2 separate regions of the Homo sapiens genome follow, and region 1 is linked to region 2. Evidence: fine-mapped expression QTL. A gene starts in region 2. The other region holds a variant in brackets. All regions are shown on one strand. Distances are from middle to middle. Region 1 overlaps CCDC169-SOHLH2 (CCDC169-SOHLH2 readthrough). Region 2 holds the start of CCDC169 (coiled-coil domain containing 169).

Evidence for each region.
Region 1: its variant is fine-mapped to the expression of CCDC169 in fibroblasts (GTEx, PIP 0.96).

What each region holds. Positions count from the first base shown.
Region 1 is chr13:36,216,667-36,227,935 of GRCh38, reverse strand. It overlaps CCDC169-SOHLH2 (CCDC169-SOHLH2 readthrough), which reads left to right. Exons shown (of 16, transcript NM_001198910.2): 6 at 555-588. It also overlaps a transcript of CCDC169 not described here. Among named protein-coding and RNA genes, the nearest start is that of SOHLH2, 7.7 kb to the right of the region's middle. The variant C/T (reference allele first, on the strand shown) is at 4,558.
Region 2 is chr13:36,290,962-36,302,230 of GRCh38, reverse strand. CCDC169 (coiled-coil domain containing 169) reads left to right here and starts at 4,417. Exons shown (of 8, transcript NM_001144981.3): 1 at 4,417-4,594; 2 at 6,374-6,453. The coding sequence starts at 4,512. It overlaps CCDC169-SOHLH2 (CCDC169-SOHLH2 readthrough), which reads left to right and starts at 4,417. Exons shown (of 16, transcript NM_001198910.2): 1 at 4,417-4,594. It overlaps SPART (spartin), which reads left to right. Exons shown (of 9, transcript NM_015087.5): 9 at 1-593. RefSeq lists enhancers at 2,866-3,828, 3,829-4,790.

The DNA.
Region 1 (11,269 bases), 74 kb after region 2:
AACAAAAGACCATATATTGCATAATTCCATTTATATGAAATGTCCCAAATAGGCAAATCCATAGAGACAGAAAATAGATCAATAGTTGCTGAGGGTTGGGGGAAGGTCGGTGATGGAGAATGACTGCTAATAGGTACAGGATTCTTTTTTGGAGGGATGAAAATGTTCTAAAATTGATTGCAGTGACAGTTGCACAACTCTGTGAAACTAATGAAAACTATTGTATACTCTAAGTGGGTTAATTGTATGTTTTGTGATTTATACCTCAGTAAAGTTGTTGTAAAAATGTTAAATATACATTAACATTTTAATATTAGTAGATAAATGTTAATGAAATATTATTTGATCTTTCTCAATAATATGATCCTAAAAATACAAAAGTGCATCATCACTAGTGCTATCACTGGGTATAGAGCTTTTATTTATTTATTTATTTTTGTGTATATGTGTGTGTGTGTGTAAAAATACAATAAACTGGTTGGAATATCTGCTTTATTAGCATATTTGTACCTTCGCTGTCCTTATTCATGTTCTATTCACATCTCTTCAAACAGCCTCCTCTTAAAAGAAGAATTGGACCCTTTAAAGGTCAGCTGCTTGGAGACATTGGGTTTCAGTGCTGCAGGTGTGGCTGGACCAGAGAATAGGACATGCCTCGGACAAAAAGCACTCTGGCCCGCCTGCTTACATGGGTCCTCAACCTTGGCTGTGTGTCAGACTCACCTGAAGAGCTAAAAGTAAAATACTCAGACATGTGCACCACCCCCAGGATTGTGATCTCACATGTATTTCTTTAAGCCTCCCCCAGGAAATTGTACAGAAAAGATTGGGACCCACTCTGCTGGTTTAGTGTGGCTTCATCTCTCAAACTGAATGAAACTTCTTCCAACTCTCCTCGAGCTGACTTCACCTTGGTCTTTTTATTTTTACTTTTTTACAGTGAGAGATAAGGATTTTATTTTTTCTTCGTTGTTATTTATTTCAATTTTTATTTTAGATTCAGAGGTACCTGTGCAGGTTTGCTATCGTGGTATATTGTATAATGCTGAGATTTGGGGCACAAATAATCCCATCACCCAGGGACTGAGCATAGTAGCCGAAAGTTATTTGTCAATGTTTGCTCTCCTTTCTTCCTCCACCCTCTAGTGGTCCCCAGTGTCTATTGTTGCTGTCTTTATGTCCATGAGTACCCAGTGTTTGGCTATCACTTGTAAGCGAGAACATGCAGTATTTGGTTTCCTGCTTCTGTGTTAATTTGCATAGGAAAATGGCCTCCAGCTGCATCCATATTGTTACAAAGGACATGATTTCATTTCTTTTATGACTGTGTAGTATTCCATGGTGTGTATCAGGAGTCCCCAGCCTCTGGCCGTGGACTGTTACCCATCCATGGCCTGTTAGGAATTGGGCTGCCCAGCAGGAGGTGAGCTGCAGGTGAGCAAGCATTACCACCTGAACTCCACCTCCTGTCAGATCAGCAGCAGCATTAAATCCTCATAGGAGCACGAACTCTTGTGAATTGTGCATGTGGAGGATCTAGGTTGCATACTCCTTATGAGACTCTAATGCCAGATGAGAATTTAACTAATGATTAATCTGAAACAGTTTCATCCCAAAACCATCCCCTCCCCAAAATACAGTCCGTGGAAAAATTGTTTTCCATGAAACCAGCCCTTGGTGTCAAAAGGGTTGGGAACTGCTGGTGTATATGTAGCACATTTTCTTTACTCAGTCCACTGTTGATGGGCACCTAGGCTGATTCTGTATCTTTACTATTGTGAATAGTGCTGCGATGAACATGCAAGTGCATCTGTCTTTTTAGTAGAAAGATTTGTGTTTTTTTGGATATATACCCAGTAATAAGATTGCTGGGTCAAATGGTAGTTTTAAGTTCTTTAAGAAATCTTCAGACTGCTTTCCACAGTGGCTGAACTAATTCACATTCCCACCAACAGTGTCTAAGTGTTCCCTTTTCTCCACAGTCTCACCAGCATCTGTTGCTTTTTTACTTTTCAATAATAGCCATTCAGACTGGTGTTAGATGGCATCTTATGGTGGTTTTGATTTGCATTTCTCTGATGATTAGTGATGTAGAGCATTTTTTTCATGTTTGTTGGCCACTTGTATGTCTTCTTTTGATAAGTGTCTGTTCGTGTCTTTTGCCCATTTTTTTTAATGGGGTTATTTTTTGCTTGCTGAGTTGTTTCAGTTTCTTACAGTTTCTGGATATTAGACCTTTGTCAGATGCATAGTTCATGGATATTTTCTCCCATTCTGTAGGTTTTCTGTTTACTCCATCGCTAGTTTCTTTTGCTGTGCATAAGCTCTTTAATTAGGTCCCATTTGTCAGTTTTTGTTTTGGTTGCAATTGCTTTTGCGACTTACTCATAAATTCTTTTGCAAGGCCGACATCCAGAATGGTGTTTCCAGGGGCCAGGCCTAGTAGTTCATGCCTGTAATCCCAACACTTTGGAAGGCCAAGGCATGAGGATTGCTTGAGCCCAGGAGTTTGAGACCAGCCTGGGCAACATAGTGAGACTGCCATCTCTACAAAAAGTAAAAAATTAGCCAGGCATGGTGGTGCATGCCTATGGTCTCAGCTGCTTGGGAGGCTGAGGTGGGAGGATCACTTGAGCCTGGCAAGTCAAGGCTGCAGTGAGCTGTGATCATGCCACTACACTTAAGGCTAGGCAACTGAATGAAACCCTGTCTCAAAAAAAAAAAAAGTGTTTCCTAGGTTTCTTCTAGGATTCTTATAGTTTGAGGGCTTACATTTAAATCTTTAATTCATCTTGAGGTAATTTTTGCATATGGTGAAAGGTAGGGGTCCAGTTTCATCCTTCTGTATATGGCTAGCCAGCTATTCCAGCACCATTTGTTGAATAGGGAGTCCTTTCCTTATTGCCTATTTTTGTTGACTGTTGAAGATCAGATGGCTGTAGGTATGTGGCTTTTTTTTCCTGGGTTCTTTATTCTGTTCCATTGGTCTCTGTGTCTGTTTTTGTGCCAGTACCATGCTGTTTTGATTACTGTAGCTTTACAGTATAGTTTGAAGTCTGGTAATGTGTTGCCACTGGCTTTTTCCTTTTTGATTAAGATTGCTCTGGCTATTCGGGCTCCTTTTTACTTCCACATGAATTTTAGAATAGTTTTTCTAGTTCTGTGAAAAATGATGTTAGTAGTTTGATAGGAATAGCATTGAATCTGTAGATTGCTTTGGGCAGTATGACTATTTTAACAATATTGATTCTTCCACCCCATGAATATGGAATGTTTTACCATTTGTTTATGTTGTCTGATTTCTTTTGGTGGTGTTTTATAGTTCTCCTTATAGAGATCTTTCACCTCCTTGGTTAGATATATTCCTAGGGGTTTTTGTGTATGTCTTTGTGTATGTGGCTATTGTAGATTGGATTGCATTCTCGATTTGGCTCTTAGCTTGAATGTTGTTGGTGTATAGAAATGTTATTGATTTTTTGTACATTGATTTTGTATCCTGAAACTTTACCGAAGTTGTTTATCAATTCCAGGACCCTTTTGGCAGAGTCTGTAGGGTTTTCTATGTATAGGGTCATATTATCCTTGAAGAGAGATAGTTTGAATTCTTTTCATATGTAGATGCCTTTTTTTTTTCTTTCTCTTGTCTGATTGCTCTGGCTAGCACTTCCAGTACTATGTTGAATAGAAAATAGCTATTTTGGGGAGAATTTTCCAACCAAGATGTCAAAACAATAATGATGAGAGCATTACATGCTAATTCCCAATATTTTCCTTTGACTTATTTAAATTTAAATAATCCAATTTTTTTACTTAATGACCTTGTGGAGATATTTATAAAACACCTTTTGATTTTTGACTGGGGCTGGATTTTTAAAAAATTTATAAAGAGCTATATAGTATTGATTTCAAATAAATTATTCCTACCTTTTCTTCATCTGAATTAGTTTTAGCATGTATAGGAGATTCCAAAGCAGAGTTACCTATATCAATTTTAGTACTATTATTTTCATATTCTACTGGATAAGAAATTACTTATTTGGAACTAAGAATTATTCTTGCAACAGAAGCTTATCAGTAACACTATTTGATTGCTTTTTGCTGTGTGCACAGGTGAGGACCTGTCTAGACTTCTATACTATGTACATTGTATTAATTTTGTTCATAAATTAGGTAATTGAGTTATAGATACTAATTTAATATTTAAAAAATTTAGATTGTTGATTTTAAATATCAGAATAACCAAACTGTAACAACAGTGCTGGGATTTTGGTATTTAAAAAGGGCAGAGTATACCAGAATATTGAAAACTGGTATTGAAATCACTACATATAATTGAATTATGAAAAAGTACCTTTAAGATAATAAAGCACTACATAAATATGAGCTCATATCATATATTTGACAGTAGGGCATTATTTTTACAGGTTAACATTCAATTAATCTGACTATGAATTAGAAAAATCTTGAATTTGTAGAGTTCATTTAACTTTATTAAAGCAATTTGCCAACTCAGCTACAGAAATACAGAAAATATTACTATCTGGAGAACTACCCAGT[C/T]GTAAGTTTATCATCGTTGAAATTGCTTAAGCAGAGATTAGGTGACCATTCCTCAGGAATAGTATACGAAGGATTCCTGCAGTGGTGGAGGTGTGTATTTGATTGCTGTCAGTGTGCCTTCTGATACTAACATTCTGTAATTCCCTGCTCATTTATCACACAACAAAACATGAGACAAAAATAACTCCATAAAATATATGTTGATTATACCATATAGGTTGTATACATATAGACTATAAATATGAGCTTTCAAAAACGTTTTGCCATTAGCTAATAACTAACAAAATCAGTTTTATTAGGGTGGTTTTGTGTTTATATTGCATGGTGTTCAATGAGCTTATATCTGTAGTTTTCATCAAATGTGGAAAATTTTGGGCCATTTTTGTATTATTTTTCTGCCCTTTCCTGTCCTCCTGGGACTTTAATTACAGCCTGTTGTAAACCACTTGATATTGTTCCTTTTGGTTCTTTTTTTATATCTTCTGTCACTGTATTTATGTTTTCCTTTAAGTAATTGGATAGGCATATAATGACTTTTAGCATACTTACACAGTATCTTTTTCATTTCTCAGTCTGTTTCTGGTGACTGATTTTTCTCCTGGTTTCGGGTTTCATTTTCTGCTTCTTGTAATATCTACTAATTTTATATTAGATGCCAGGCATTGATGATTTCACATTGTTGGTTATAGATTTATTCTTATAGGCAGTTAAATTAATTGCAGTTCAGTTTCTTCTTTTCAAGCCTTTGTTAGGGTAAGTATAGAGTGAGCTTCACCCCACAGAGAGTTTAACACCATTTCTAAGGCATAGCTATTGTGGGATCACTAGAAAATTCTGTGAGTGATCAGCTGGGACACTCAACACTGGCTAGTTGGACCTCAGATGCCTCACAGGCCTGTGTGGCACTCTGCTTGACCTCGTAGAGTTTTGCTCTAGGCTTACATGTCTTAATATCCAGCCACCTCTCAAGGGGCTCCTATGCAGATTTCTGGAATTCTGTTTTTACATATCTGTTAGCTCTCTGGTACTCTGCTCTGCAACTTCAGCCACTTCAGCCTCCCTGAACTCCAGCCTCTGTCTTCTCAACTACATGAAACCACCATGCTTTGTTTGGGATCCCCTACCCTGCTCTGAGGTCTGTGCCTGCAGGTAGAAATCTAGAATGATGGATGGGCCTCACTTCATTCCTCTCAGGGGTCATAGTCTTAAGGTGCATGTCAATATCTGCAGTTGTTTCATATATTTTTGACTAATTTTCTGTTTCTTCACAGTAAGAAGCTAAATCTTTCCCCTGTTACTCTCAAAGCCAGAAGTAAAGGATAAAGCATTAAAATAAAAGCAAAGAAAATATTTTAAAATCTAATATAAAAATCCATTTTGCTATGCATCTGTAACTTTTTTTTATGTTATCACCTAAATATATTTTTCTCACCTTAATCAATGAAATTTGCACTGGATAAAATGACTGGATGGGGCTTTGTCTTACCTTGGCAAGGAGGTAAGTATATTCTGGGAAGAAAGAGCAAAAGCTATTTATTTGGTGATCAAATTGATGGACTGTGGCAAAAACTGTTGCTATGCACTCACCAAACTGTTTTCTTTTTCTATGGGACACAGAACTAGGCTTTTTCTATGGGACACAGAACTAGGCTACACATACATAACAAAGTGTATGTGTTAAACACTTTGTTTGCCAGTGTGTGATGATGCACACATACTTCTTTGCTTAGTGATATATGCATGAAACACTGTTTGGTAGTGTGTGGTATGTATGCTACTGTGTTTAGAGATAGGCGTGTGAAACACTGTGTGCACTTAGGTGTGACCCTGCGACTGACTTCAGGCCAATATAACCTAGACATAAGTGATACATGTCGTTTCTGTGACTAGCCCATTAAAACGTCCCAGGTGATCCTTCTTGTTTGTGCTTTTTCTTTAAAAAAAAATTGTGTTATGGGTGGATATAGAGGGTCTAAAAGCAAATTCCAAGGCCTCAGGGATAGCAGATCCACAAGGTAGAAGAAAATTGGGTCCCCGAATCACTTCATGTAGCACATCCATTCCTCTCACTTTGTTAATCCTCATTTGGTTTTTATGTGAGAGAAAAGGAAATCCTTTTGTATGTTTCTGTGTGTATTAAGACACTGAGATTTAGGTTTTACTGGTTGAAGCAGTCAGCCTATGCTCACTTGTATCAAACAATATTTTTAGTAAGACTTACAGGTATTTAGGTTTTCTTCAGTAGATAATATCTTTCTTGGCAACTACATGAGAGAGAAATTGAGCTATTCATTGATGGTGATGGCTCCTGGCCTGCTGCATCACTGAATCAGGTTCTTGAATCTCAATTGGTATTTTAAAATTGATTCTAACTTGGTATATTTTCAAGTCTGCTGAACATAACTAAAACAATGATTTTTTTTAACTAAACAATCTTTTTGCATTTCCATCAATGTCTTTCTAGGATGCTGTTCTTTCAAGCCTTAGTACAAATACTGTAAAATCTGATAGGCAAATACTTGCTGGGCCCAAACAACTGTGGAATGTAGCAGTCAGTGTGTGAGCATGGAAGGATGCCCATAATAACCTTTGCTCAGATGAGGAAGAACGCACAGCATCACTCATCCACAGCATTTATAAAATCCCATTGGGAAGATATGGTGAAAGCCCTCTTCACTGGGAATGGGGTCGGTTCCTTTCTTGGGCTCTGACTCTGCTCTTGGGAGGAATGTTCTTGTCCATTTTTTCTTAGTAGCCACTGGCTCCAGTCCGTGGGAGTTTCTTCCTTTTTCATCTTCTTGCCCACATTCGAAGTGGATGATGAGGTTATGCCCTCTATTGGGGATGCATAGCTTTCAGAGCTCATAATCTGTTTGAACAAAATTGGGTGTCTAAAGCTGATTTTACAGTTCAAAGGCTTTTTAGTCCTAGTTTATATAAATTCCATCAAAATAGTAGCCAGTTCTATGTATAATATAATTTCAGAGCATGATTTGTTTCTTTGGCCCATACCTCTCTCTGCCTAATGGCAGCTACCATGCAGGTTATTTAACTAATTGATTAAGGTGATGTGAAGTTAACACCTATCCATAATCTGATCCTTGCCACAAGGCTGAGTATTAGTGGCCTTTTGTGGCTTGACTTTTCTCAGCCTTATCTCTTTCTTTTTGGGACCTAGAAATAGTTGGCCTTTCCAACTCTTTAATGCCCTTCAATGCCCCAAATTTCTAGATTCTTTCCTAGACTCTCTCTATTCCCTTTTATTTCTCCTTACAAACTAGTTAGCTATATTGCAAGCTCATCAATTTATTCTCTCTTACCAAAGGCAGCCAGTAACATTTAGTACACATTTAGTAGTCCATTCTCATGCTGCTAATAAAGACATACCTGAGACTGGGTAATTTATAAAGGAAAGAGGTTTAATTGACTCACAGTTCCAGCATGGCTGGGGAGGCCTCTGAAAACTTAAAATCATGGCAGAAGGGGAAGCAAACACGTCCTTCTTCACATGGCAGCAAGAAAGAAAAGTGCCAAGCAAAAGTGGGAAAAGCCCCTTATATAACTGTCAGTTCTTATGAGAACTCACTCACTCTTATCATGAGAACAGCAGCATGGGGGTAACCTCCAATATGATTCATTTACTCCCCACTAGGTCCCTCCCAGACATGTGGGGATTATGGGAACTACAATTCAAGATGAGATTTGGGTAGGGACATAGCCAAACCATATCAACACATTATTATTCGTTGTTTTCCCAACATCCTTCCTTTGACCTACAGTCTTAGTAAGCACTTGGTCTGCTATGGCATAACAGGGATCCCAGGCTTCCAACCTCCCATATTTCTTTCTGTGCCTCTCACTGCAGACCTGCTAAGTTAATGCCACACATATTAGTATTTTGTTTAGGCAGCACCTAAATTCAAGTTATTAATCTCTCTATTATGACTATAAAAAATAACTCAGACTTTAGAGGCTTAACACAAAGATTTCTTTCTCTCACACATCACAATCCATTCTGGCTTCAGCAGTGAAAAGAAGTAAAACTAAATAAATAACAAAATAGTATTTATATCTGGGGAGACAGGGAAATGTGAATGAGAGACACACATAAGGTATTTTAAAATTATTGATAGTGTCTGTTAGGCTGAGTGGTAGGTACATACACATCCATATTATTATACTTTAAATAATACATATGTAATAAATATACTCGGGTATGTATGAAATTTTCAAAATAAAAAAATTAAAATTACTTCAGATAACTTTTTTTTTTTTTTTTGAGACAAGGTCTTGCTCTGTTTCCCAGGATTGAGTGCAGTTGCATGATCATAGCTCACTGCAGCCTCAAATTCCTGGGCTCAGCCTCTCAGGTGTGTGCCACCACACCTAATTTTTTTTTTTTAAAATTTTTGGTAGAAATGATATTTTGCCGTGTTGCCCAGGCTAGTCTTGAACTCCTGGCCTCAAGCATTCCTCCTGGCTCGGACTCCCAAAGTGTTTGGATTACAAGTGTGAGCCACCTATACCAGGCCTCTCAGCTGACTTTTAAACCATATTAGTATACATGAACATATTCACGAGTAAAGTGTGAATGACATTTTTTCCACTCCCGCTTATCCCTCACCTTTACAAACAAGAAGCTTCTCTCCTTGAAGGTGGCCTGACATTTTTGTGCTAAAGAAATTCCTCATGACTTCATACAGCTGCAGTTGGCTGTCACTGTGGCTAAAGGTAAAAGAGTTCATTTGTAACTTTGTGATCTCCTCAGACCATAGAGCTATAACCAATGACTACCATGGGGGGATGCACTCAAAATGAATCAATGTGGGATCGCACAGGCCCACTGTGGACTTTGTGTGACACAGTCCCTCCTCCATGGTTATAGTGTTACTTTGGTTTAGCTCTACATTTCCTAGCAAAGACTTGTGATTAAAATGAGGCAGATTTAGTAGAACTAAATCCGGTTTTAAAAAGTGAACATACTGAATGATGAGAAAACTGTCAAGTCTTATTGCAATCTAACGCAGGGCATCATTAGAAGTTGGCACTATTCTTTGACCTGTGTTACTACCTAAGGGCAGTGGTTCTAAACTCATTGGGAAAAACATGTATTTATTATCACCTTCTGTATGTATACTAAATACTAGGATATGAAATCTAATAAACAGTCTCCGCCTTACCATGCTGCTAAAATCAAGTCATAATTGTTGAGCAGAGGTGTGAGACAGTGTTAGTCTATTTAAAGTGCTATAACAAAATACATACTGGGTGGCTTACAAACAACAGAAATTTATTCTCACAGTTCTGGAGGCTGTGAAGTCCAAGATCAAGGCAGCAGCAGATTCAATATCTGGGGAAGGCCCACTTCCTGGTTCATAGATGGCATCTTCTCACTGTGTCCTCACGTGGTAGAAGGGGTGAGGGATCTCTCGCGGGCTTCTTTTACAAGGGCACTAATCCAGTTTATGAGGGCTCCTCCCCCATGACCTATTACCTTCCAAAGATCCCACCTCTTAATACTATTACCTGGGGGCTAGATTTCAAATATGAATTTTGGGGGGACATCAATATTAAATCTTTAGCAGATGGAATTAGTACTACTTTGAAAATTTTTCGTTGTCTTCTCAGACTAACCACAGAACAAAAGTGTGAGTCAGCCTGTTGTGTGGGAGAAACCCAAGCAAGCACAAGTATAACATTCAGGGGTAAGCAGGTGTGCTAAACCTCAGACAACGCAGGTGTCAGAACTGTGCTTTCAGGTTAGGAGGACTGAGGGAGAGGCAGAAAGAAGGCATGCACGCAGCAGAAGTGGAAGCCTCTTTGATGCAGGGATAATGGGACAGGAAATGTTTTTCAGGCAGAGCTCAGAATCAAATAAGTGAATTAGCAGCTGGGAAGGATCAGAACCTAGATTCAGGGCAGTTCCCAAACCAATAAACTGTGCTTACACTGTTGTGATGGCAAGTGCTATTCTTTAAGGCAGCTTGGGGCTCCTCTAGGCTTCAGATGACTTATCCTATCAATACTACAATTCCAAAGAAAGAAGTTACTCTATCTGCTTGTGCAAATCTTATACTGGGGACTCTTGGGGGGACCTCAGGACACTATTAGGGAATAGAAACTAATCTAGTCACTTGATTTGAAGGTAAGTCTAGAAAGCCAGAATGGGACAAGGTAATGTGGCCCTAATGCCACACAGAGGAATGGGACTTAATTGTAATAAGCAGAGAAACCCTTGTACGTTTTCAAATAGGGAAAGGACACGATTAAAACTGACCTTTCCTTTTCCCCATGCAACCAGCAACACAATTTACACCAGTTCTGGCTTTGAAATACTGAGTTTGCCATTTTGGTGTGTGTAATATTTCTTCCTTTCCTCCAAACGTCATCTTTTCCTTTCCACTACACAAGATTCAAGAATGTGAAAGATGCCAAAGAAATTAAATGGCTTACACTCTATGTTATAATTTGGAGGGGTTATATTAATAGTAGGGTTTCTCAACCTCAGCACGAATGCCATTTTGGGCCACATAATTCTCTGTTGTAGAGCGCTGTCCTGGGCATTGTAGGATGTTTAGCAGCGTCCCTGAACTCTACTGGCTAGAAGCTAGTGCACCACCAGTGATGATAATGAAAAACGTCTTCAGGCATTGCCAAATGTCCCTTGGAGGGCAAAATCTTCCCTGGGAAGAGATGTTGTTTTAGAGTAGAT
Region 2 (11,269 bases):
TATATATTACTTGTAAGGTATGATGAATAACAACACTTAAAAACTCATCACACCTAAAGACATGGAAAGCTGCCAATTACCTATATGTATGTTCTTCCTATTTTCTTACCTCTTTCCCCATGTCATTTTTTATTGTTCCTTGCCATTTTTTAATCACACATGTATGTTCTCCAAACATACTGTTTCATTTTTTGAAGCTTTCTACATATAGTGTCTGAATGTGAAGTCTTACTCAACTTGCTTTTTTGAGTTTATGTTTAAAATTCATTCTTGCGCTTATATGCATGGATGGTTTACTTGCTCTATAGTATTCTGTGTGAGTATACCACAATTTAAGTGTTCATTTTCCTATCAGTTGACATTTGTTTTTAGTTTTTGTTGGTAGAAACAGTACACTCAAAACATCCTTGACTGTCCCCTGGTACACATATGCAAGAGACTTTATGCGTAAGAGTGGAGTTGTTGGCTTGTCAAGTTTTGCAAAATAATGCCAGGTATTTTCCAAAATGATGATATTCTCTTGAGTATTACTTCCCTTTGCAATGTTTTTATTGTTAATGTAGCATATATAAAAAAGTATCTCATAATTTTAATTTGTGTTTTCTTGACCTCCTTTCCTGACCTTAGATCAGTAATTTTTCATGTTCATTTGCCATTCATTTGCCTGTGCTGTAAAATTTGCGTGTTGTCACTGCTGACAATTTTGCTTCTCATGTTTAGGTGTTTACTGAGAATTGTGTATATGTGTGCAAGAGGTAAGGTATCTAATTCCTCCCCTCCTCCCCCACCCCGTAGATAATCAGTTATTTAACCCCCATTTATTGAATAGTTCTTTTCTTCAGTAATTTCCCACAGGTCTTTCTCTATATATAGAGTATGAGTGTTTCTGGGCTCAGACGTTTGTTCCATCTGTCATTTCTTTTGTTCCTGTGCCAGTCCCACACTGTCATCATTGTAAATTAGTAAGCCCTACTGATTGTTAGGGCAAGAGGCTCAATTCCCTCAACCAAATTCTTTAGGAGTATTTTGGCTGATTAAACAAGTTCCATAAGGAGTTTAAAATCTTCCCACAAAGAAACATCAGCCCCAGATGGACTTACAGGTGAGTTCTAACATACCCTAAGAAAATAATGTTACCTTGGGTGCAGAGGTGCACACCTGTAATCCCAACACTTTGGGAGGCTGAGGTTGGGTGGATCTCTCGAGTCGAGGAGTTTGAGACCAGCCTGGGCAACATAACGAGACTAAAGATATTGTTGGACATTGTGAATTTTACCTTATTGGGTACTGGATGTTTTGTGTTCCTATAAATATTCTCGAGTTTTGTCTTGGGAGGGGATTAAGTTACTTAGAACCAGTTGGATACTTTTGGATCTTTCTTTTCAACTTGTTAGGGCTAGTGTTTTTTCCGACTCCTAAATCAAAATCCTTTGTGTACCTGATGCCCTGTGAATTCAGAGGTTTTCCATTCTGGTGGGTGGTAGCAGGTATTATTCCTACCTCTGTAAACTGTAAGGATTTCCCCTCTAATCCTTTGTGATGGTTCTTTCCCCAGCCTGAGTACTTGCCCCACCATGTGTGTGCATTCATCAGTATTCTGCTGCAGAGTGTACCTTGTGGCAGGCCAGGTCTCATTAACACAGGCCTCCATAACAACTGTTTCAGTACTGACTTGAGTGGCTAAGTTAAATACTAAAAGCTAAAAAAACCAAAGCCCTTATACAAAGGCTGGAATGTAATAAAAACCCACCAAGAACTAGGTCTCAAAGCATGACAAAAAAAAAAAAAAAAAAAAAGAAGGAATTCTTAGCTGGACCCATTTAGGATTAAACAAGTTTTTTGGGGTTCTGAAGGAATCCCCAAACCTCCCTGATTTAGCAGGAGACAGGGGTAATCACCCTAGCACCTGGACCCATTTAGATTAAGTTTACTGAGGCTCCAGAGGAAGGTCTTCAGGACTCAAGACCTTAGTTGTAGATTATAAAAAGTTAACCACTTAATGTCTATAGATGAATGCACACTTACACATAGACATATAGCTTAGAAGGTCTGGAAAACTGTAATTTTGAGTTGGTCTGGTTATAGTTTCCAGGGCTTCTGCCTGTAACTGGTTCCAGAAATAAAAACTCTCTTCCTCCCCAGTTCATCTACATGTTCTTACTGGGTCACAAGAAATAGCAACCCAACCCTCAGTTTGGTCTGGGAACACCCTGTGCAGCTCTCCCCTCCAATATCTGCCCTGCAAAGTCTAGCTGCCTTGTTCTCTCTAGACTCTTAGAGAAACTCCGTTTCCTCAACTTAGGGCAACCACCAGCCTCTGCCTGTTTTCTCCCTTTCTGCTTTGTACCCTGGCAGGCCCAGGCCAATTTGGGAGCTTGCCTCATTTGTGTCTCATCTCTTGGTGATCGTTTTCCCTTATTGCCTGATGTTCAATGTTCTTTTTTTGTTCCTCTTAGTTTTTTAGTTGTTTCAGGCAGGAGGGTAAATTCAGGTCCTTTATCTCTGCCAGAAACACAAATCTGTGGTTTCTGTAGTTGTTGACAAACCTGTTTTCTGCTTGCCTTTGCTCCTAATTTCCCACAGTGAGATCCTGCTAACAGATCTTTTTAAGAAATCCTCTGGGTCGGGTGCAGTGGCTCATGCCTATAATCCCAGCACTTTGGGAGGCAGAGGTGGGTGGATCACGAGGTCAGGAGTTCAAGACCAGCCTGAGCAATATGGTGAAACCCCATCTCTACTAAAAATACACAAAAAAATTAAGCCAGGCATGGTGGTGCGTGCCTGTAGTCCCAGCTACTTTGGGAGGCTGAGGCAGGAGAATTGCTTTAACACAGGAGTGGAGTTTGCAGTAAACTGAGATTGTGCCACTGCACTCCAGCCTGGGAGACAGATGAGACTCCGTCTCAAAAAAGAAATCCTCTGTATATTTGGATTTGTCAACAGATAATCTAGTCCTTTTCACTTCATTCTATTCTGTTTACTTGGTTGTGAGTTGCCCTTTCAGACTTAACAGCTAGACAAAATTTTGATAAGCATACCTCCTATATTAGGGTAATTCACAGAAACAGAACCAATAGGGAGTGTGTGTATAAAAGATTTATTATAAGGAATTTGCCCGTACAATTATGAAGGCTGAGAAGTCTCAGGATCTGCAGTTGACAAGCTGGAGATGCAAGCAAACTGATGTGCAGTCCCAGTCTGAGCCCAAGGCTGGAAAAGTGTTCCAGCTCAAGCTGTTTGGCTGTAGGAGCTCCCTCTTACTCCTGGGAGGTCAGCCTTTTTGTTCTATTCTGTCTTCGGTCGATTGGCTGAGGCCCACCCACATTGGGGAAGACAATGTACTATACTCAGTCTACCAATTGAAATGTTAATCTCATCCAGAAACTCAATTGGAAAACTATGTATTCACAACACTTCTGACACCAAATTGTGTTTTCCACACCAATTATCCCATTCTCACTAAAACCTTGGTCTCCACAACCCCTTTATTCTCTAAAGACATTCCTAAGTCTTTAGTCAGTAACTTTTCAACCAATTGCCAATCAGAAAATCTTTGAATCTAGCTGTGACCTGGAAGCCACCCCGTCCCCCACCCCTTCCAATTGCCCTGCCTTTCCCGATGGAACCAGTGTATATCTTAACATGCATTTGATTGATGTCCCATGTCTCCCTAAAATGTATAGAACTAAGCTGTACCCTGACCACCTTGGGCACGTGTTCTCAGAATCTCCTGAGGGCTGTCACCCGCCATTGGTCACTCATTTGGCTCAGAATAAATCTCTTCAAATATTTTACAGAGTTTGTCTCTTTTTGTCAAGGAAACACAGATGTATCAAGGGTAGGATGCAAACTTTGTGATTAAAAATATAATGAAATTTCAAGTTGCAGTGAGCAGCTCTGAGGTATGTTCATGAACAGCACACAGATGCAAAACAATAATCTGGAGGGTTAGCAGTCTTCCCGAGTTCAGGAGGTACCTTTTTAAGACCAGTTCCTCCCGCTCCGACACTGCCAAATCAGCGACTCTGGTGCTTGTTCAACTGAAGCAAAGAAGGGCGCAGCTAATCTTGGATCCAGCGTTTCCCTAACAAGGGCTAAGAGTGAAGCCGACTTTGCCGTCCGGGGCAATGTTTAGGAAAGCAACCAAAGCCAGCAGGAGGGAAGAAAAAGGAGAGGGATATTCTTGGCCCCCTGACACTCCGCTGTGTAGCCGGAGCACGTCTAACCCCAGCGTCTTGAGCAAGGAGTGTCCCTGGAGCTGTTATCCAGGGTCGCTCCACCGCACAGAGTAGGCTTCTCCAGTCTCCCCGGCTGCCCTCGCCCCACCCCCTGCCGCCTGCGGGCATCGCTTTATGACGTCACCACGTGCCTCTGCGGGCAGGCGCGGGAGGTGCGACCGGGGGGCGGTTGGGGTTCACCGCCTCGTGCCGTACTGGCTTCTGGGTGGCCCTTAATGTCTTGTGCTCTAAGGTGCTGAGGGGAAAGACGCGGGAGGTCTCTGGCCTGACACTATGAAGGAAGAGAGAAACTACAACTTCGACGGTGTGAGCACCAACCGCCTGAAACAGCAGTTGCTGGAAGAAGTCCGCAAGAAGTGAGTCGGCGGGCGGCGCGGTGTGGGGTCCCGTCCACACCCCCCGAGCCTTCACCTGCAGAGTCTCAGGGCTGAAGCCGCTGAGGGTGCTGTAAGACCGGCGCCGTGATTAACCCCTGGGCACTTCGGTCTGGGTTCCAAAAGTATTCCATGCGAAAGATTCACGTGCCTCTTTGAGTAAGCCTTTGGTATTGTTAAGTAGGCAGCTTTCCGGGTAGGATGTGCTGCCCTTAAGGATCCAATCATATGGCGTGTATTTTGCCCATATACTGTAATGCCAAAAGTTGTGTTTGGTTTTGATGTCTCCATAAATCCAGGTTTTCTGCTTAAAATTCCAAAGATTTTATTTAGTTATACGGGGTTTTTTTTTTCTTTCATCCCTTTAAGGGGAACTTCATAAAATGACATTTAGTAAAACTGTTACTCCTCCTTTATGCTTTTTAAAAACAGTATTCGTACTTCGTGTTAAATTTTTGAAACATTTAAAGTATTTTTTGGACATACTCCCAACTCCATCCACAAGTCCCGTGAGAATTGGACTCTCCTTTGTGCCTAGATAGGGTTCTGGGTTTTCCTCTATTGTAGCTCCAGTCACAGTATTTTAATTGCCTGTCTATTTCTTGTTTTGCTACCAAACTACACGCGTTCTGAGGACAGGTTCTGTGTATTCTGAGGAAGTAGAGAATAAGAGCAAGTACTTGAGGACAGTCCTGCAAAAACACAAACTCCATCTCTTGTCACTCAGTAACTATGCAATCTTAGACAAGTTAATTAACCTCTTTAATCCTCAGTTTTCTCAGCTCTAAGACTGGTATACAAATAGTCATCTCATACCTCCTGCTGTTGTTCCCAGGTTGGAATGAAATGCACTATAAAGAACTTAGCATTGGCTTGTGATACGCATCCAGTGGAACTTTGCTGCCGCTATTGCTATTTTTCTGTTCACTGTTCACTGAATTCTTCCGTATTTAATACAATGCCTTGAACATAATAGGCACTCAAAAATATTTATTGAATAAATGGCCCTGTCATATGATAATGTTCTATTTACTGATGCCCTAAATAGCTAACCTTTTAAATTAGTGTTTGTTTTTTTCTCTTTGTTTCAGTTTGTCAGCTGTTATGTATTGCCCTAGGTATGCCTTTCTGTAATAATGTGCAGTGCCTAATTTGCTTGGTTCTGAAAAACCAGGTAACTAACTTCTTTAGGATGATATTTAAGTTAAAAATAAAGGATTTCCAAGGGCCGGGCCTGGTGGCTCACGCCTGTAATCCCAGCACTTTGGGAGGCCGAGGCTGGGCGGATCACAAGGTTAGGAGTTCGAGACCAGCCTGGCCAATATGGTGAAACCCTGTCTCTTCTAAAAATACAAAAAAATTAGCAGGGCTTGGTGGCGCATGCCTGTAATCCCAGCTATTCAGGAGGCTGAGGCAGGAGAATTGCTTGAACCCGGGAGGCGGAGGTTGCAGTGAGCCGAGTTTGCACCACTGCACTCCAGCCTGGGCGACAGAGCGAGATTCTGTCTCAAAAAAATAAATAAAAATAAATAAAAGATTTCTAATGGTTGCCTGGGGGTCTTTGAGCTTTAGTGCATATTTGAGTCCTAGAACTGACTAATTGGAAGCCTTCCTTTGCCTGAGTCTTATTTCTTAACCAGTCCTTCAGTAAATAATGTGTCATAGTAAATTGTTCCTGAAGTAGTAGTGGGTTACTATGTATTATTTTTCTGATGTTATTTTTAATTGAATTATAATCAACAAAAATATTTTAAATAACAGGGATGCAGTGCAACTCTCAATATTTGAACTAAGACACAAGATTACGGAACTGGAAGCCAAACTCAATACTGACAATGAAGGTATATAAGTAAATACTTATATTTGTGACTCCTGTATAATTATTGTTCATTTTACCAGGATATCTATGGTGCATTAAATTCCATATATTGAATAATAGTACCAACATTTCAGTATTGCTTTTTGGCCACATTAATGATAGTTTATGATAGAGGCTTTAAAACTGATACTTCAGAATATCAAACCTATTACTATTTAATTATTTTTCTACCTTTCAAGTTCAAAATGTTCATTAATTAGCAAAAACTTTGTTACATGACATCAATATATTATTTCTTTATTAAATAAATATCACCAGTTTTCTATTCACCTCAAGTTACACTCTTTATATCTTAACTTCTAGGTTTGGGATATGTTTAAAATCCGTATCTAGGTTTTAGCTATTGTTGTTGGAAGAATGTGTGTTTGGTGTGGAGGATGCTGTGTACCTACACACTCATATATCCTTAAAATTTGTAATGTATGCAAGATATGACCCTGCCATATGTCAACACTTTAAATGGAAGACCTTTGTTTTCCCTGTTCTAAAGAGGTTCATTGACTATTGGGAGAAAGTATCAAATCAGATTATGGATATGAGAAGTCATATAAGTTCTATGTAAGGATAAATGAAAACTTAGGGAAGGGAAACCTAACAGAATTCGGGTGAGTTAATAAAGACAGGCTTTCCAGAACAGGCATTGTTTGAACTGAATGCTAAAGAACAGGAGGACTTTATTAGGATTATCAGGGTGGGCATTTATAAGGGAGGAGACCACCCCTCATATTGTCTTATGCCCAATTTCTGCCTCCAGAGAAAGAAGAAATAAAAACTAAAAGGCAGAAATGAAATCCACAGGCAGACAGCCCAGCACCACACCCTGGGCCTGGTAGTTAAAGATTGACCCCCAACCTAATCGGTTATGTTATCTATAGATTACAGACATTGTATGGAAAAGCACTGTGAAAATCCCTGTCCTGTTCTGTTCTGTTCTAATTACTGGTGCATGGAGCCCCCAGTCACGTACCCCCTGCTTGCTCAATCAATCTCAACCCTCTCATGCAGACCCCCTTAGAGTTCTAAACCCTTAAGAGGGACAGGAATTGCTTACTCGGGGAGCTCATTTTTTTGAGATGTGAGTCTTGCTGATGCTCCCGGCCGAATAAAGCCTTACCTTCTTTAACTTGGTGTCTGAGGGGTTTTGTCTGTGGCTCGTCCTGCTACATTTATACTCTTCCTCAATTGGGGAGCCATGAACAAAAAGGAATAGTGGCCATATGGGAAATAAAATGCCACTTTCTATAAGTACCCAGTGCTTTGTTAAAGCTTGGTTGCAGAATACTACTTTGTCCCAAGGCTGAAGTAGCTTCCTCTATCTCCATATCTATATCTTAGATATAACCTCAGTCTCTGGGGGCAGGCTCTCAGTGTACTTATCAAGTAGCTGCGTTGGCAGGGTAACTGGAACGTCCTCATGTACCCAGTTACAGGAAAAACAGAAGGCATGCTCACAGGTACACATGCAATAACTATGCCCAGTAGTAAAATGTGGCTCAACAAGTTGTAGCAGTTCTCAAAAGAAGGAGCTAGTATGTGGGTATAAAGAGAAAACGTCAGAATGATAGGAGAGAAAGTTCTTTCCTTAGTGGGCCAAAAGTAAGGCCTAAGGTGAAGGGCAGAAACATTTACTCCTTTAAAGCCAGGGACTGTGTCAGGTGAGGTAGTTATTATTATCCCCATATATGGAAGAATGAAATTCAGGAATTCAAATAACTTCTAAGGTAATATAGCCAGGTAGTGGCAGAGCCATGACTTGATCCTAGATCATCTATTTACCATGCCTTCAGTAAATGATAATACAACTTCCATCTACCACATCACACTCAAAACACTTCTGCTTGTCTTTTGCTGCATAGCAAATCACCCTATAATTTAGGAGCTTAAAACAACAAACTCTTATAATTCTGTGGATTAACTGGGTTGGTTCACCTGGATGGTTCTTGATTGGGGTCTCTGGTTGCAATCAGGTATACTGAAGATTCAAGTGAGCTGGTCATTCCGTGATGACTCATTCACATGGCTAACATCTGACACTGGCTTTTGACTGGAAGCTCAGCTAGGGCTGCCTGTCAGAAATGCCTCTTGTACCTTTTTCTTCTCACAGCATGGTGGTTAGGTTCCAAGAGGATGTATCCCAAGAGCAAGCATTCCAAAAGACATAAGTAGAGACTGCCAGGCCAGTCAAGGGCTACTCCCAGAACTGGCACAGGGGTATATCCACTGTATTCTGTTGGTCATAGTAGTCACAGATTCAAGGGACTGGAGAGGTAGACTGCTTTTAAGGTCACATTACAGAGCAACACATGGGATGGGATATATTATTGGCAGTCATCTTTGGAAAATACAGTCTGCCACAGGAGCATTAAACATAAAGCCATTTGGGGAATATGCTAAGTAATTGATAAAAATGGAACATAGGTCATAATGAGAATGCATTAGGAGATGAGGTTAAAGTTTATGAAGGAGATAAATCAAGAAGATTGCATGATGCTAATGAATTTACGTTTATCCTGAAGGCAGTGGGGCAATATTAAAGGTGTTTTAAAAGGAATTTATTACTGGAAATATGCGCACATGTGACAAATAGGGGTACATTCACTGTTCAGATAATTTTTTCACCCTTTCTGCTTTCTTCTCAAACCTCTACCACCTCTCCACTCAATCACACTCTCAGGTAATGAGCTTACCCTCTTCTTTCAAAGAAAAAAGAGAAGCAATCAGAAGAGGACTTCTACCTGTTTCTACCAACAGAGCTACCCATCTACCTGCACCCTTGCACATCCTCTTCCCTCTTGTTTCTATGAATGATCTGTCCTTATTCTTGTCTCAGGTTATCTCCTCCCTTTGTGGAGTAGATCCTACCTACTTGCACCTACTCAAGGATATCACTGTAGTGATGGCCCTCTCTTCCCTACACTGTCTGTTTTCCCTGCTCTACTGGATCATTCCCAACAGCAGACCAACATGCTGAATTTATTTTATCTAAACAACAAATGACAGGCTTCTTTTGGCCCCACTTTTCCCCTTCAGCTAGCATCCCCTGTCCCTGCCCCATTTACAGCAAAAGCCTTCAAAAGAGTAGTTTTTATTTCTACTTTCTCATCTGCTTATTGTTTGATCTTGCTTGTCACTGGATTAGTTTTTAGGCAGGTGGTAAACACAGCCAACTCCAAAGAGCTTTATATTCTCAAAGTCACCTCTTGAAGCCTTTTAGGATTCATAGGAAACTGTATGTAGAAAATTTGGTTTTATGTTTTAATTTGAATTTCACAACAAAGTTTAGTAATAAGAAAATGGTAAAGAAAATGTTCAGGTGACTTTTTTTTTAAGCAAGAAGAATTAGTATTTGTGTAGGGCTTTAAGTACGTTTTTTAAAAAAATTGAAACCTCACAACTACCCTTTGAAAATAATATCATTACCTCCGTTTTATAGATTGAAAAATGGAGGCCAGGTGCGGCAGTTCACACCTGTAATCCCAGCACTTTGGGAGGCCAAGGCAGGCAGATCACCTGAGGTCAGAAGTTCGAGACCAGCCTGGCCAACATGGTGAAACTGTGTCTGTACTAAAAATAACAAAAGAAAAATTAGTCAGGTGTGGTGGTGGGTGCCTGTAATCCCAGCTACTCTGGAGGCTGAGGCAGGAGAATCGATTGAACCGGGAGGTAGAGGTTGCAGTGAGCAAAGATTGCACCATTGCACTCCAGCCTGGATGACAAGAACGAGACTCCATCCAAAAAAAAAAAAAAAAAGAAGACTTATTGACAACACACAAGTTTACATCTTCATCCTGGATTTCTCCTTTGAGTCTTTTATAGGCTGGTTTCTATGCCCAAATACCTTTGGCTAGTAGGTAATATATTAATAAATCCAATATATTTTTTTAAATCACCTCAGTAAATGCTAAAATTTTAAAAATAAAATTCCATTTGTTTTTCAAAACAAGGAAAAGAATACTTCTATTTATCTCAAACTAGCATAATACTTAACAATGAAATAGTAGAGGCATTTCCATTCTTGGGGGAAAAAATACCAAAGCTGCCTGCTGCCATTATTAAAATGCAATATAGTTTTTGAAAGTTCTAATTAAGCAATAAAATATGAAATAGAAATGAGTTATAGCTATTAGAGAGGAAGTGATACAGTTATAAAGATTAGTATATTAATAAAGAATTAGAAAATAGTTGGATACAATCATGAAATAAATATTTATTTAAAAAAACAAATGCCAGCAATAACCAGTTAGAAAATAGGGTTTTTAAATGATCCCACCCACAATTCCAACCGAAACCATAAAAGATCTGACAATATTCCTGACCAGAAATATGAGGACCTGTATGAAGAGATAACAGAAGACTATAACTATAAAGGCATAACTGTTTAGTCCAAATTCTTACTTATTTAACATAAGAGATTTCATACAGGAAACTCTAGAATAAAATAAATTTGGGAAAGCTTTGCAGCATTAACACATGTTTGCTGAGCTTCTGAGAGACTTTGTTAGTAAGTGAAACATAACAGTGTGTATCTTATTGCTACAGAGTCTGTCTTGTCAGTCTTATGTGATCTCTATTTTAATGTTAATGCTGGTCATTTGTGCCTAAACTCCAAATTGGGGGAAGGTATAGTGTGGCATGTCCAACCCTCCACTTCTCATAATGGCCTGAACTAGTTTGTCAGGTTTCTTTGGGATTCCCTTTGGCCAAGAGGTGGATACATTCAGTCTGTTGAGGGGGCTTAGGATTTTTTTTTTTTTTAGTTTATATTCCCCCTTTTTTGG